Regions from separate parts of the Homo sapiens genome. Here region 1 is linked to region 2. Evidence: fine-mapped expression QTL. A gene starts in region 2. The other region holds a variant in brackets. All regions are shown on one strand. Distances are between the middles of the regions.

Region 1 (8,315 bases), 32 kb after region 2:
AAAAGAGGCTTGAGGGAGAGCCCCTTGCCCCTTTGGCTGTGTGAGGACACAGCAAGAAGGCACCATCTGTGAAGCAGAGAGCAGGCCCTCCCTCCACACTGAGTCTTCTGGCGCCCTGATCCTGGTCTTTCCAGCCTACAGACCTGTGAGCAATACATTTGTATTGTTTGTAAATGACCAGGTCTACGGTGTTCTGTTACAGCAGCCCAAATGGACCAACACAACAGTTGATTTTCTTTTTCTTTCTTTCTTTTTTTGTTTTAATTTCTTTTTCTTTTTCTTTTTTTTTTTTTTTGAGATGGAGTCTCGCTCTGTCACCAGGTTGGAGTGCAGTGGCGCAATCTCAGCTCACTGCAAGCTCCCACTCCCTGGTTCAAGCGATTCTCCTGCCTCAGCCTCCCAAGTACCTGGGATTACAGGCCCGTGCCAACACACCCAGCTAATTTTTTTTTTTTTTTGTATTTTTAGTAGAGACGGGGTTTCACCATGTTGGCCAGGATGGTCTTGATCTCCTGATATCGTGATCCTCCCACCTCATCCTCCCAAAGTGCTGGGATTACAGGCGTGAGCCACCGTGCCCGGCCTTCTTCTTTTTTTGAGACAGGGTCTCCCTCTGTCACCCAGGCTAGAGTGCAGTGGTGCAATCACAGCTCACTGCGGCCTCAACCTCCTGGGCTCAAGCAGTCTTCCCGCTTCAGCCTTTCAAAATGCTGGGATTGCAGGTGTGAGCCACTTTGCCTGGCTGACAATAGTTGATTTCTTTCACATGTAAAAGTCTGAGTTGGGATGATGGCTCTGTTTTGTAACATTGCCTGGGTCCAAGCTCATCCTACTGTGTAGCTCCTTTCCCCAGGGGGTTGCCTTTGCCCATAGGGTAAGATAGTTCCCACTCTGTTTCAGACCGCAGACTGGGGTAAAATGGAAGGAGACATGTTTACTCCTACTCAGTCTCATTGACAGAAGTTAATTACATTATCATACCCAGTTGGTAGGGATGCTGGTGTCCCGTGCGTCTGTGGGAAGAGACCACCAAACAGGCTTTGTGTGAGCAACAAGGCTGTTTATTTCACCTGGGTGCAGGTGGGCTGAGTCTGAAAAGGGAGTCAGCAAAGGATGGTGGGATTATCATTAGTTCTTACAGGTTTGAGATGGGCGTACAAAGTACATTCAAGGGCGGGGAGAATATTACAAAGTACCTTCTTAAGGGTGGGGCAGAATATATGGTATCAGTTAGTGGGGCAGGAACAAATCACAGTGGTGGAATGTCATCAGTTAAGGCTATTTTCACTTCTTTTGTGGATCTTCGGTTGCTTCAGGCCATCTGGATGTGTACGTGCAGGTCACAGGGGATATGATGGCTTAGCTTAGGCTCAGAGGCCTGATATTCCTGTCTTATATTAATAAGAAAAACAAAACAAAATAGTGGTGAAGTGTTCGGGCGGTGAAAATTTTTGGGGGTGGTATGGAGAGATAACGGACGATGTTTCTCAGGGCTGCTTCGAGTGGGATTGGGGCAGCGTGGGAACCTAGAGTGGGAGAGATTAAACTGAAGAAAGATTTTGGGGTAAGGGGTGATACTGGGGGTTGTTAGAAGGAGCATTTGTCCTTCTAGAATTACTGGTGATGGCCTGGATGCGGTTTTGTATAAATTGAGAAACTAAACAGAAGACACAAGGTCCAAATAAGAGAAGGAGAAAAGCAGGTATTAAAGGACTAAGAATTCGGAGGACCCAGGACATCCAATTAGAGAGTGTCCAAGGGGGTTCAGCATAATTACTTGCTTGGCTGGTGAGTTTTGGGGCTCTATCTTTGAGTTTTTTTGTGTTGTCATATACCAGGCCAGATTGATTTAGGTAAAAACAACACTCTTCATTTAAAAATATACAGAGTCCTTTTTTTTTTTAGCAGTGAGTAAGTCGAGGCCTTGGCAATTTTGGAGGAAAGAGAAATGCAAAGCCAGTAATTGTTTGTTAAAGGAGGATTAGAAATGGCTGGGAGAGAGTGAGATTGATAGTGTGGTGGAGATAGCTGGGGAGAGGTAGAGGATGGCATAAGAATGGGAACCAAGGCCGGGCGTGGTGGCTCACCCCTGTAATCCCAGCACTTTGGGAGGCTGAGGCGGGCGGATCACGAGGTCAGGAGATTGAGACCATCCTGGCTAACACAGTGAAACCCCATCTCTACTAAAAATACAAAAAATTAGCTGGGTGTGGTGGCGGGCGCCTGTGGTCCCAGCTGCTCCGGAGGCTGAGGCAGGAGAATGGTGTGAACCCAGGAGTCGGAGCTTGCAGTGAGCCGAGATCGCGCCACTGCACTCCAGCCTGGGCAACAGAGCAAGACTCTGTCTCAAAAAAAAAAAAAGAATGGGAACCAGAATAACAGTGAGCATAGAAGTAAAGAATAGGACTTCATCAGGGTGAAAGTATTGGAGGGTACCTTGCCACTGAAGATCTATCCACTTCAAGAGAGACTTAAGGCGATTTGAGGTAAAACCAGGAGCCACTAAATACCGAGAGCCTGAGAGACTGCTTGGGTGATTTGACTAATAAAGGCTGGTCCGTTATCAGACTGTATAGAGGTGGGAAGGCCAAACCGTGGAATTATGTCTGACAGAAGGGAAGAAATGACTGTGGTGACCTTCTCAGACCCTGTGGGAAAGGCCTCTACCCATCCAGTGAAAGTGTCTACCCAGACCAAGAGGTATTTTAGTTTCCTGACTCAGGGCATGTGAGTGAAGTCAATTTGCCAGTCCTGGGCGGGGGCAAATCCCCGAGCCTGATGTGTAGGGAAGGGAGGGGACCTGAGCAATCCCTGAGGGGTAGTAGAATAGCAGATGGAACACTGAGAAGTGGTTTCCTTGAGGATAGATGTCCACGAAGGAAAGGAAATGAGAGGTTCTAAGAGATGGGCTAGCGGCTTGTAACCTACATGGAAGAGGCTATGAAGTGACGACAGAATAGAATGGGCCTGTGAGGCTGGAAGGAGATATTTTCCTTGGTCTAAAAACTATTTGCCTTGTGTGGGAAGAGATTGATAGGTGGCAGTTTCAGTGGGGGAGTAGGTGGGAGTGACCGATGTGAAGGAGAAAAACTGGCCGTGAGGGGCAGAAGTTGGAAAGCTAGCTGCTTCTTTAGCTACCTTATCAGCATAAGCGTTGTCCTGAGCAATGGGATCTGATGCCTTTTGATGGCCCTTGCAGTGAATGACTCCAGCTTCCTTTGGAAGAGAAGTGGCCTTGAGAAGAGTTTTTATTAAGGAGGCATTAAAGATGGAGGACACCTGCGTAGTGAGGAAACCTCCTTCAGCCTATATAACTGCATGGTGGGGCAGAATATGAAAGGCATATTTAGAGTCAGTATAAATATTGACGCGTAGTCCTTTTGCAAGAGTGAGGGCCTGAGTTAAGGCAATGAGTTCAGCTTGCTGAGAGGTAGTGGAGGGAGGCAAAGCAGTATCCTCAATGATAGATGTGGAAGATACTATAGCATAGCCTGCCTTTGCTGGTGTGTGGCGATTAGGCCTGGTGGAACTGCCATCAATAAACCAAGTGTGATCAGGCTGAGGAACAGGAAAGAAGGAAATATGGGGAAATGGGGTGAATGTCAGGTGGATCAGAGAGATAGTCATGAGGGTCAGGTGTGGTATCCAGAATAATGTGGGAGGCCGGATTGAAGTCCGGGCCAGGAACAATGGTGATTGTGGGAGACTCAACAAAGAGTGAGTACAGCTGAAGGAGCCGGGGAGCAGAAAGTATATGCATCAGGTATGAGGAAGAAAATAGATTTTGAAAGTTATGAGAACTGTAGAGAGTGAGTTGAGCATA[G/C]TTTGTGATTTTGAGGGCCTCTAAAAGTATTAAAGCAGCGGCAGCCACCACACACAGGCATGAGGGCTAGGCTAAAACAGTAAGGTCAAGTTGTTTGGACAGAAAGGCTATAGGGCGCGGTCCTGGCTCTTGTGTAAGAATTCTGAGAGCACAGCCCTGTACTTCAGCTGCGTGTGATGAAAAGGGTTGGGATGAGTTAGGGACAGCTAGTGTGGGAGCAGCTTTTAGGGCTGTTTTTTTTTGTTTTTTTGTTTCGTTTTGTTTTTTTTTGAGACAGAGTCTCTCACTCTGTTGCCCAGGCTGGAGTGCAGTGGCGCGATCTCGGCTCACTGCAAGCTCCGCTTCCCAGGTTCATGTCATTCTCCTGCCTTAGCCTCCTGAGTAGCTGGGACTACAGGCACCCGCCACCACCCCCGGCTAATTTTTTGTATTTTTAGTAGAGATGGGGTTTCACCATGTTAGCCAGGATGGTCTCGATCTCCTGACCTTGTGATCCACCTGCCTCGGCCTCCCAAAGTGCTGGGATTACAGGTGTGAACCACTGTGCCCGGCCAGGGCTGTTTTTTAAGGAATGGAAAGGGGAGTGGGGAAAGGATTTAGGATTTATGGGGTCAGCTAGGTTTATCTAGAACAGAATAATGGGTTGTGGAGGGAGGTATTGAGGATAGGAGAGTATACGGGTTTGGCACCATGGGGTGGATAGGCAAGACAATGTGGTTGATAAGGCACAGATCCTGAACTAACCTGTAAGACTTGTCTGGTTTTGGATGGGTAGGATAGGGGAGTTGTAAGGAGAATTTGTAGGCTTCAAGAGACCATGTTGTAACAGGTGGGTGATAACAGGCTTTAACCTTTTTTTTTTTTTTTTTTTTTTGAGATGGAGTCTTGCTCTGTCGCCCAGGCTGGAGTGCAGTGGCACGATCTTGGCTCACTGCAAGCTCTGCCTCCCAGGTTCACGCCATTCTCCTGCCTCAGCCTCCCGAGTAGCTGGGGCTACAGGCGCCCGCCACCAAACCCGGTTGATTTTTTGTATTTTCAGTAGAGACGGGGTTTCACCATGTTAGCCAGGATGGTCTCGATCTCCTGACCTCGTGATCTGCCCGCCTCGGCCTCCCAAAGTGCTGGGATTACAGGCGTGAGCCACCTCGCCCGGCCTAACCTTTTTAAAGCGTGCTGTGGGATGGGATATTGGTGTTGAGTGGGGTAAGGGTGATTAGGTTTTAATGGGATGGTAAGGGGTGCATGATCGGTCACCAAGGAGGGAGTAGAGGTATCCCATACTTGCGGATTAAGGTGGGGAGATACAAGGGGAGGATGTGAAGGAGGCTTTGAACTGGGGAAAAGGGTGGCAATGAGGTGTGGCTGTAGCCCAGGAATGATCAGGGAAGCAGATAATTTGGTTATAATGTCTTGACCTAATAAGGGAACTGGGCAGGTGGGGATAACTAAAAAGAAGTGCATAAAAGAGTGTTGTCCAAGTTGGCACCAGAGTTGGGGGGTTTTAAGAGGTTTAGAAGCCTGGCCGTCAATACCCACAACAGTTATGGAGGCAAGGGAAACAGGCCCTTGAAAAGAAGGTAATGTGGAGTGGGTAGCCTCCGTATTGATTAAGAAGGGGACAGACTTGCCCTCCACTGTAAGAGTTGCCCAGAGCATCTGTGATGGTCCAGGAGGCTTCCGAGGTGATGGGGCAGTGTCAGTCTTCAGCCGCTAAGCCAAGAAGATCTGGGAAGGAGTCAGTCAGAGGGCCTTGGGCCGGAGTTCCAGGGGCTTTGGGAGTGGCTGCCGGACAAGTTGGACAGTCCAATTTCCAGTGGGGTCCTGCACAGATGGGACACAGCTTAGGAGGAATCCCGGGCTGCAGGCATTCCTTGGCCCAGTGGCCAGATTTCTGGCACTTGAAGCAAGATCCTGATGGAGGAGGTCCTGTAGGAATGCTAGACCACTGCGGCGTAGGCATTTTGAAGTTCTTGTGTGCTGGAGATGTGGCTGGGGTTTCTCTCACAATGGAGGCAAGGAATTGCAACTCAGAAATATGTTGCTATGCAGCTGCCTCTACTCTATTAATGTACACCTTGAAGGCGAGGTTAATTAAGTCCTGTTGTGGGGGTTTTGGAGCTTTATTTAATGTCAGGAGCAGATTGGGTAATAAAATGCATATTGAGAATAAGAGGCCTTCTGACCCTTCAGGGTCTAGGGCTGTAAAGGGCCTCAGGGGTGCTGCCAAACGAGCCATGAACTGGGCGGGGTTTTTATATTTGATGAAAAAGAGCCTAAACACTAACTGATCTGGGAGAGGTCGGATAAAGGAAAAGGAGCATTAACCTTGACTATGCCTTTGGCTCCAGCCACCTCTTTCAGAGGAAATTGCTGGGCAGGTGGGGGAGGGCTAGCTGCAGAAGAAAACTGTAAGCTGGATCGGGTGTGGGGAGAGGAGGTGATGGAAGGATTATAGGGCGGGGGAGAGGAGGCTGAGGAAGAATTGGAGCCTGATTCAGCCTGGTGGGGAGCGACCTGAGGAGGAGCAGCCTGGGGAAGAGGGGAGAGGTCAGATGGGTCGGTAGAAAAGGAAGATTGAAAAGACTCAGTGACGCTTGGGGTTGAGACTGAGGGGACAGGCAGGAGGGAAAGAAGGAGGATTTGGGACAAGTCGCATTAGGAACAGAGACTAGGGAGGGACCAATGTGTAAAAGAATGCCTGGATATCAGGTACCTCAGACCTTTGGCCCATTTTACGACAAGAATTATCTAGATCTTGTAGGATGGAAAAATCAAAATTGCCGTTTTCTGGCTATTTAGAACCATTGTCGAGTTTGTATTGGGGTTAAGCAGCATTGCAGAAGAAAATAAGGTGTTTAGGTTTTAGGTCAGGTGTGAGTTGAAGAGGTTTTAAGTTCTTGAGAACACAGGCTAAGGGAGAAGGAGGGTCGGACGGTGGAAGGTTGCCTATAGTGAAGGAGGCAAGCCCAGAGAAAAGAGAGAGTAGAGACATGGAGAGAAGGGGTGGGGGGTGCTTGCCCCCCAGGAAAGTGGTGCTTGCCACTAAGGGTGAAGGATCAAGGCAAGCGTCCCCGTGGTGATCAGACACCTCTGAAACGTGGGTGAATAATCAAGCAGGCGTCCCCGCAGTGATTAAACACCAAGGGAAGACTGTCTTCCCGAGTCCGTGACCAGCGCTGGGGTTTTGGGTTCACGTATAAAACACGTCTCCTCTGTCTCTACCAGAAAAGGAAAGGAACTGAAATTAAGAGAAGGGAGAGACTGAAGGGTGGCGCCAAGATTCAAAGGAGAAAGAGGTTGAGGGATAGTGAGAGAGGTTGTAGAAGAGAGTAAAAAGAGACTGCTTACCCAATTTAAAATTGGTGAAATATTCCTTGGACTGGTTGGTCTGAGGACCCGAGGTCATAGGTGGATCCTTCTCACGGTGCAAAGAGCAGGAGGACAGGGGATTTATCTCCCAAGGGAGGTCCCCTGATCCTAGTCACGGCACCAAATGTCACGCACGTCCGTGTGAAGAGACCACCAAACAGGCTTTGTGTGAGCAAAAAGGCTATTTATTTCACCTGGGTGCAGGTGGGCTGAGTCCGAAAACAGAGTCAGCAAAGGTGGGATTATCATTAGTTCTTATAGGTTTGGGATGGGCGTACAAAGTACATTCTCAAGGGCAGGGAGAATATTACAAAGTACCTTCTTAAAGGCGGGGGAGAATATTACAAAGTACCTTCTTAAGGACCAGGCAGAATATATCGTATCAGTTAGGGTGGGGCGGGAACAAATCACAATGGTAGAATGTCATCAGGTAAGACTATTTTCGCTTCTTTTTTGGATCTTCAGTTGCTTCAGGCCATCTTCATGTATATGTGCAGGCCCACAGGGGATATGATGGCTTAGCTTGGGCTCGGAGGCCCGACACTGGGATATGTAACCATTATTCTAGATGGCTATGCTAAACCCAGCATAATCAGAGGTTCCATTTTGTTGAGAAAGAAGGGGACAACGAATATTGGGCAACAATTTGTCATCTCTGCCACTGAAACCACTGCTTCTCTGTCCACTACATTTTATCAAAGGCAGAGTGTCTTGCAATCAGCTTGACTTGCAAGAGGCTCAAAGGCCTCTTGGAATGCCTTGCATCAGTTTGCTTTTGTGGCATAAAAAGTTACCCCAGGTGGGCGCAGTGGCTCACCCCTGCCTGTAATCCCAGCACTTTGGGAGGCTGAGGCGGGTGGATCACTTGAGGCCAGGAGTTCAAGACCAGCCTGGTCAGCATAGTGAAACCCCATCTCTACTGAAAACACACAAAAAGTAGCCAGGCATGGTGGCTGGTGCCTGTAATTCCAGTTACTTAGGAGGCTGAGGCAGGAGAATCACTTGACCCTCAGAGGTGGAGGTTGCAGTGAGCCGAGGTCATGCCACTGCATTCCAGCCTGGATGACAGAGTGGGACTTGGTCTCAAAAAAAAAAAGCAAAGAAAAAAGAAAAAAGTTACCCC
Region 2 (8,270 bases):
CAAAGGACGTGCGTTGATGGAGCAGGCGGCGGGCTAGGGGGTTCGAATCCCAGTTCCCCGACTCCCACTGTGGGATTTGGCCTGGGGGCAGGAGGTGGCTTCTGCTTTCGGAGCCTCAGTTTTTCCATCCGAGAAACGGGGGAATCGTTCCCCTGTTCTGGGATGGAAGAGAGGGTCAATTAGAATCCGCTCTCCCTGCATCCCTCTCTGCCTTCCTCTGTCCCACCGCGTGCCTGGCCCCGCAGTTCCGCGAGCGGGATGCCCTGGAGGCCGTATTCCGCTTCTGGGCTGGCGGCGAGAAAGGGCCCCAGGCGTTCCCCATGAGCCGCCTCTGGGACTCGCGCCTGCGCCACTACCTGGGCTCCCGCTACGACGCCCGGCGCGGTGTCAGCGACTGGGACCTGCGCATGAAGCTGCATGACCGCGGGGTGAGGGGCCCAGGAGAGGGGCTGGGGGCCTGGACCCCTGGGTCTGAGGGAGGAGGGGCTGGGGGCCTCCTGAGTCTGAGGGAGGAGGGTTTGGGGGCCTGAACTCCTGGGTCTGAGGGAGGAGGGCCTGGGGACCTGGACTCCTGGGTCTGAGGGAGGCTGGTGTAGGGGTCTCTCCACGCTCGGTTCACTGAGGGCTCCCTTCTTCCCGCCCCCCACCCCAGGCTCAAGTCATTCACCCCCAGGAGTTCCGACGCTGGCGGGACACAGGCGTCGCCTTTGAACTCAGGGACTCCAGCGCCTATCATGTGCCCAACCGGACCCTGGCGTCCGGTCGCCTCCTGAGCTACGTGCGTGTCCACTGCCTGTCCTGGCCCACTGCTGCTGCTCGGAGTCCTAGGAGTCAGGGGCCCCAACATCGACCTCACCTGCCTCCTCTCTCCCTCCTTTTCCAGCGTGGGGAGCGCGTGGCAGCGCGCGGGTACTGGGGGGACATCGCCACGGGGCCCTTCGTGGCCTTCGGCATCGAAGCGGACGACGAGAGCCTCCTGCGGACGAGCAACGGCCAGCCAGTCAAGGTGCGCGGCGAGGCTGGGACTGGGGGTAGAGGTGGGGCTGGGGGTCGGTGGGTGCGCAAGGCCCCGCCCCCACAGCAGGCCCCGCCCCCAGCTCCAGACCCCGCCCGTCGCTTGGTGGGAACGACTCCATTCAGAGAACAGGCCCCATCCCCGCGGGATAGGTCCCGCCCCACTTCACATCCTCCAAGCAGCTGCGGGAGTTCTAGTCCTGGACCGAGGACTCCCAGCGTTCTAAGCCCCGCCCCGCCATCCTGGCCCCGACGTCTGGCCACGCCCCTTCTACTGTTAGACGGCCGGGGAGATCACTCAACACAACGTGACGGAGCTGCTCCGCGACGTGGCCGCCTGGGGGCGCGCGAGAGCCACCGGGGGGGACCTGGAGGAGCAGCAGCACGCGGAGGGAAGCCCGGAGCCAGGGACTCCAGGTAAGCCAGGGACAACAACAGGTAAGCCAGGGACTCCAGCCTCCAGGTGTTTCACACTGGAGTGTGGACTGACATGATTTGGAATGCCTGGGCAAGTGACGGCTTCTTGATATTCTGTCTCTTTTTCTCTCTTTCTCTCCCTTTCCTAAATTCTGAGAGCATGCTTAGAATTCTGAATTCCACTAGCAGAATTCTAATCTTATCTGCAGAGGGCTAAGCTATCCAAGAATATTCTCACAGGGTGCTGGGTCCCAGCTCCCCCTTGGACAGCCTCCCACACCCTGGATCCTGGCTGGGCCTCCTTCCAGCCATCCTCCAACCTGGCCCTCCCTGCGTGTCTGTCTGACAGGGCATGTCACATGTGGCCCTGGCCACCCACCCTCTTTCCCTCTCTAGAGTCTCAGTTGCCTGATCTGTACAGTGAGTCTCTGCCTGCCAGGCTGACCTTCCCAGAACTTTCCAGGAGCCTACCTTAGAGGATTTTTTAAAAAGCTGCAAGAGGACAAAAAGTGTTATCTCCAAGTCCTGTGTGCCTGCCCAGCTCTGCCCAGCTCTGTGTATCTCTCTGGTTTTCCGCCCTTATGGCTCCGCCTGTCAGAGGTGACCCCTCTATCCCCTTCCCCCAGCAGCCCCGACCCCGGAATCTTTCACCGTCCACTTCCTGCCGCTCAATTCTGCTCAGACTCTCCACCACAAGAGCTGCTACAACGGCCGATTCCAGCTCCTCTATGTGGCCTGTGGGTAAGCGGGGAGGCAGCTGTGCTCACAAAGACCCAGGATCAGGCCCCCAGCCCCTCCTCCCTCAGACCCAGGAGTCCAGGCCCCCAGCCCCTCCTTGCTTAGACCCAGGGGTCCAGGCCCCCAGCCCCTCCTCCCTCAGACCCAGGAGTCCAGACCTCCTGCTCCCTTCTTTCCCCAGGACCCAGACTCCAGTTTTGCCACCCCTCCTCCCTCATTGTCTGGGATCCCAGAGCCCCATCCTCCCTCCGGATTTGGAGCTGAATCTCAGCCTGTCCTCCGTCCTCTCTGCAGTATGGTCCATCTTCTCATCCCTGAGCTTGGGGCCTGTGTGGCACCCGGAGGGAACTTGATTGTGGAATTAGCCCGGTGAGTCAGTGGGGTGGAGGGTGGGGAACATCCTGGCTGGGGATCAAAATCTGGGTCCCTGACAGGGCGCTTCCCATCTGCAGGTACCTGGTGGACGTGCGGCAGGAGCAGCTGCAGGGATTCAACACCCGGGTCAGGGAGCTAGCTCAGGCAGCTGGATTTGCTCCACAGACCGGGGCCAGGCCTTCAGAGACCTTCGCACGTTTCTGCAAGTCCCAGGAATCAGCTCTGGGCAACACTGTCCCAGCTGTGGAACCCGGAACTCCGCCCCTTGACATCCTGGCCCAGCCTCTTGAAGCCAGCAACCCAGCCCTTGAGGGCCTGACCCAGCCTCTGCAGGGTGGGACCCCACACTGTGAGCCCTGCCAGCTGCCCTCTGAGTCTCCAGGTTCACTCTCAGAGGTTCTGGCTCAGCCTCAGGGGGCCTTGGCTCCGCCCAACTGTGAGTCAGACTCCAAAACTGGAGTCTGACCCAACCCCTAGACACCCCTTATCTCCAACTTCCAAAGTCAGGTTGTAGGATGAGAACCCGCTGATACCATTCTAAGTCCGCTGCTAGAGTCCTCAATTTTATTCTAATCATTCCCACTCAGTACCCGCCACCCCCACCCCGGGAGTGTTGGTAGACTTTCAAATTCCATTTCTGAGATTCTATGGTCTATTCCTAGAATTCTAGATTGTTCTCTCAGAATTCCAAATTCCACTTCTGAGGCTCTAAGCCCAGCCTAGGATCTGACACTGAGTCTCAGGCCCTTGACTTTGGCCCCCTTGTTCCCAGGCACCCTGTGGCTGACTAGGGGCTGGGGTGTCTCCTCACCAGGGCCTGGTCAGCACCCAGATGGTTCAAGTAAAGCAAGTTGTGTCCACCCTTCTGTGTGTCCAAGCGTCTTTCCTGTCCTATGTCCGTCTCCAGGGCTGGGAGAGAAAGGCCCAGGAGTGCTGGACAGAGGAAGCCAGAAACCAGATTCCTGGGTTTCCAAGTGGACGAGGGATGGATTTCCCAGTGCTATTGACTGAGAGCTAGCCCCGAGCACAGCTGCATCCTCAAATTAATCAACAACATTTATTGAGTGGCCTGGACTCCTGGGTCTGAGGGGAGAGGGATTGGGGTCCTGGACTCCTCGGTCTGAGGGGAGAGGGATTGGGGTCCTGGACTCCTGGTCTGAGGGAGGAGGAGCTGAGGGTGCAGACTCTTGAGTCTGAGAGAGGAAGTGTGCTGGGGGCCTGCCTGGACTCCCTTGTCTGAGGGAGGGGCTGGGGGCCTGGACCCCTGGGTCTGAGGGAGGAGGGGCTGGGGGCCTGGACTCCTGGGTCTGAGGGAGGAGGGGCTGGGGCCTGGACTCTTGGGTCTGAGGGAGGAGGGGCTGGGGCCTGGACTCTTGGGTCTGAGGGAAGAGGAGCTGGGGGCCTGGACTCTTGGGTCTGAGGGAGGAGGGGCTGGGGGCCTGGACTCTTGGGTCTGAGGGAAGAGGAGCTGGGGGCCCAGACACTTGAGTCTGAGGGAAAAGGGGGCTGGGGGCCTGGACTCCTTGTGTGAGGGAGTGGCCAGGGTCTCCCAGGGTCCTGGGACTGAGGGAGGAGGAGGTTGGGAGGTCGGGCATTCTCTGGGTCTGAGGGAGGAGGGGTCTAGGACTCCAGGATCAGAGGGAGGAGGGTCCGGATTCCTGTGCCCGGAGGTGGCTGGTGATCCAGCTGGAGCAGGGCCCACCCCGCCCCTCACGCGCCCCCGTTATCTGGCATAGTGGGCAGGGGGAGGAGGAGGTGACAGTATATTTAGTCTGTGTCCTCGCCCTTTATCTCAGTGTCCTCGGGGAGTCTCAAGCAGCCCGGAGGAGACTGACGGTCCCTGGGACCCTGAAGGTCACCCGGGCGGCCCCCTCACTGACCCTCCAAACGCCCCTGTCCTCGCCCTGCCTCCTGCCATTCCCGGCCTGAGTCTCAGCATGGCGGATGGGTGAGTGATGCCCCAAGGCAGTGGGAGTTGGGGGCGACCTCCCGGGTTCCCAAGAGGGGTCGCAGCTGAGAGGCTGGACCCTTGGCCTGCGAGGTAGGCGTAGGGACTCTTGGGTGAAGAGAGGAAGTGGGTTTGCGAGTCAGACTCCTGGAACCCAAGGAAGGGGAAGCGCGGTCCCCCGACCTCTTGTTCAGAGGGGACTCCAGGGGTCCCTTAGGAGACAGGACACAGCCCACCACTAACCCCCCTCCTTGGTTTCTCTCCTTCCAGGAGCAGCGATGCGGTGAGAGCAGCGGGCTAAGGCGTGGCTGGGACCCCCAGGGCCAGGGTGGGCGCTGCAGTGAGGGGTCTGGGGCGGGAGGCTGCAGCCCTAGCAGAGGGTGCGGTACGGTAAGGGCTGGGTGGGGTCTTGGTGGTGATGGGGTCCCCACTCCTCCTAACCCAGGCTAGGGAACCTCGCCCTGCACCAGCCCCAATCAGACGCCGCTCCTCCAACTACCGCGCTTATGCCACGGAGCCGCACGCCAAGGTGGGACGGGGCTTCCTGGGGGCAGAGTACAGGCGCCGGAGGGATCCAAGACCCTGGGAGTGGGGGGAGGAGCCAGGGCTGCGAAGGGGGCGGGGACTACGCGGAGGGGCTTCAGGGGCGGAGTTTTGCAGAGGGTCATGCTCGGATTGGTGACAGCAGCCTGCGGGCGGAACTCCGTTGCCCTCGGACTTGCTTAGGGATAGATGGGAAGTGCCTATCCAAAGGAAGAGACCCAGATTGGTGGATGGGAATGAGGGGCGTGGCCTCCCGTAGACTCAGGGCTCAAGTTGGACGTGGGCCCAAATCTGGACCGGCTGGGTTTGCTGGGGGTGTCTTGAGGTCCCCTCCACCGTCGTCTCCGAATCCCCCTCCATGATCCTTCCTTGCTCCATCTCACCCTGGCAGAAAAAATCTAAGATCTCCGCCTCGAGAAAATTGCAGCTGAAGGTGAGGACGGGCGGGACTGGGAAAGAGCAGGCAGGTGCTCAGGGGGCGGAGCTTGAGAATGGGTGGGGCTTTCGGGGTAGGTGGGCGGAAGTGGGCGGGGTTTGGCCGCTCGGGGCGTGGCTTTAGCGGGGAGTACTGCTCGGGGTGGGACGGGGCCTTGGAACAGTGGAGACCAAACTGGAGGGTTTAGAAGGGCAGAGGCGGTTCCCCACGCCTGGTCTTTATCCTGAAGCCCCGGGTGGGCTGCGCTTCCCTCCCACCCCTCTGCAGACTCTGCTGCTGCAGATTGCAAAGCAAGAGCTGGAGCGAGAGGCGGAGGAGCGGCGCGGAGAGAAGGGGCGCGCTCTGAGCACCCGCTGCCAGCCGCTGGAGTTGGCCGGGCTGGGCTTCGCGGAGCTGCAGGTACCGGCTCCCAAGGATGCGAGGTTTCTAGTCCCGGAATTCAGCAGTACAGCCTCTATCCCCTCTTCTGCTCGGGACCCAGGCGTCCAATATGGCTGTCCTTACCCAATTATATATGGTTCGTGGGACTCCTGGCCCCTAACACCCTTTGTGTGCAGGTCTGTGGAGTCTTGGCTCCAACCTACTCCTTCAGGACCATGTGGCCCTCCTATCCCAGACAGAAGCCCAAGCCCCAGCCCCTCCTCCCTCAGACCCTGGAGTCCAGGCCCCAGCCCCTCCTCCCTCAGACCCAGGAGTCCAGTCCCCAGCCCCTCCTCCCTGAGACCCTGAAGTCCAGGCCCCAGCCCCTCCTCCCTCAGACCCTGGAGTCCAGGCCCCAGCCCCTCCTCCCTCAGACCCTGGAGTCCAGGCCCCAGCCCCTCCTCCCTCAGACCCTGGAGTCCAGGCCCCCAGCCCCTCCTCCCTCAGACCCTGGAGTCCAGGCCCCAGCCCCTCCTCCCTCAGACCCAGGAGTCCAGTCCCCAGCCCCTCCTCCCTCAGACCCTGGAATCGAGGCCCTCAGCCCCTCCTCCCTCAGACCCTGAAGTCCAGGCCCCAGCCCCTCCTCCCTCAGACCCTGAAGTCCAGGCCCCAGCCCCTCCTCCCTCAGACCCTGAAGTCCAGGCCCCAGCCCCTCCTCCCTCAGACCCAGGAGTCCAGTCCCCAGCCCCTCCTCCCTCAGACCCTGGAGTCCAGGCCCCAGCCCCTCCTCCCTCAGACCCTGGAGTCCAGGCCCCAGCCTCTCCTCCCTGAGACCCTGGAGTCCAGGCCCCAGCCTCTCCTCCCTCAGACCCTGGAGTCCAGGCCCCAGCCCCTCCTCCCTCAGACCCTGGAGTCCAGGCCCCAGCTCCTCCTCCCTCAGACCCTGGAGTCCAGGCCCCAGCCCCTCCTCCCTCAGACCCTGGAGTCCAGGCCCCAGCCCCTCCTCCCTCAGACCCAGGAGTCCAGTCCCCAGCCCCTCCTCCCTCAGACCCTGAAGTCCAGGCCCCAGCCCCTCCTCCCTCAGACCCAGGAGTCCAGTCCCCAGCCCCTCCTCCCTCAGACCCAGGAGTCCAGTCCCCAGCCCCTCCTCCCTCAGACCCTGGAATCGAGGCCCTCAGCCCCTCCTCCCTCAGACCCAGGAGTCCAGGCCCCCAGCCCCTTCTCCTCCCTCAAACCCAGGAGTCCAGGCCCCCAACTCCTCCCTCAGACCCAGGAGTCCAGGCCCCCAGCCCCTTCTCCTCCCTCAGACCCAGGAGTCCAGGCCCCGAGCCCCTTCTCCCTCAGACCCAGGAGTCCAGGTCTCCCTGTTTTTGGTTCCCCCAACAACACACACCACGTTCCTCCTCCAGGACTTGTGCCGACAGCTCCACGCCCGTGTGGACAAGGTGGATGAAGAGAGATACGACATAGAGGCAAAAGTCACCAAGAACATCACGGAGGTGGGACGCATGGGCAGCTCGGGTACCTTCGGGGTAGGGTGAGATGGCTGGGACTTGGTCTCTGCCTGACCCCTTGCAGCTGCTTTTGGCTGCACATCCCAGGAGACCCAGGACAACTGTGAGCCTGGCAGGGCTGGGGCAGAAGGATGAGTACAATATAGTCAAGGAAAGCTGTTCTAGGCAGAGGGAACAGCACATGCAAGGCCATGGGTTGGGAAACAGAAAATAAGTTAGTGAACATGCTCAGGGCATCACATGTTGGTAAATTAGCTCAGGCACTGGCCAGGGAATTGTGATTTGCATGTAGCTGGACCAGGTTATGCCAGTGGTTTTGAGAGGTGAGGCTGGAGCATATGAGGAGGGGGATTCAGTTCCAGGATTAGAAGCCTAGACTGGGAGCCTAAGCCGGGAAGAGACTGGTAAGGCCTCGGTACTGGAAGACGAGATAAGGAGAATAAAAAAGGAGTGTAGGATGGAGGAGTTGGGTGTGCGGGAAATGGAAGGAGAAGTACCCACCCCCTCGTGTGCCCCCAGATTGCAGATCTGACTCAGAAGATCTTTGACCTTCGAGGCAAGTTTAAGCGGCCCACCCTGCGGAGAGTGAGGATCTCTGCAGATGCCATGATGCAGGCGCTGCTGGGGGCCCGGGCTAAGGAGTCCCTGGACCTGCGGGCCCACCTCAAGCAGGTGAAGAAGGAGGACACCGAGAAGGTGAGTGTGGGCTAAGGCCAGGAAAGAGGATGCTGAGGGGAAGGGCTGTGGGTGCCAACAACCCTAGGCCTGAGGGCAGATGGTGCTTGGAGTTGGAGGTAGAAGCAGCTAGTAAGGGGTCCTCAGAAATGCAAGAGGAAGACAGGAAGTAGAAGGGGAAGACAGGAAGTGCATTAGGGCTACAGGAAGTCCATGTAAGAGCAAAGAGGTACATGAAGGTCCAGGTGCA

Evidence for each region.
Region 1: its variant is fine-mapped to the expression of TNNI3 in lung (TOPMed, PIP above 0.99).

Annotation. Positions count from the first base shown.
Region 1 is chr19:55,122,225-55,130,539 of GRCh38, reverse strand. It overlaps MIR7975 (microRNA 7975), which reads left to right and starts at 7,248; the gene lies at 7,248-7,315. The variant G/C (reference allele first, on the strand shown) is at 3,824.
Region 2 is chr19:55,153,801-55,162,070 of GRCh38, reverse strand. TNNI3 (troponin I3, cardiac type) reads left to right here and starts at 4,339. Exons shown (of 8, transcript NM_000363.5): 1 at 4,339-4,492; 2 at 4,763-4,775; 3 at 4,938-5,021; 4 at 5,427-5,468; 5 at 5,739-5,870; 6 at 7,241-7,330; 7 at 7,865-8,041. The coding sequence starts at 4,482. It overlaps DNAAF3 (dynein axonemal assembly factor 3), which reads left to right. Exons shown (of 12, transcript NM_001256715.2): 6 at 246-428; 7 at 653-778; 8 at 884-1,006; 9 at 1,296-1,431; 10 at 2,058-2,172; 11 at 2,464-2,538; 12 at 2,622-3,406. The coding sequence ends at 3,009. DNAAF3-AS1 (DNAAF3 antisense RNA 1) reads right to left here and starts at 2,762. Exons shown (of 4, transcript XR_007067345.1): 1 at 2,626-2,762; 2 at 857-1,025. RefSeq lists enhancers at 393-1,319, 4,561-5,148 and a silencer at 1,335-1,444.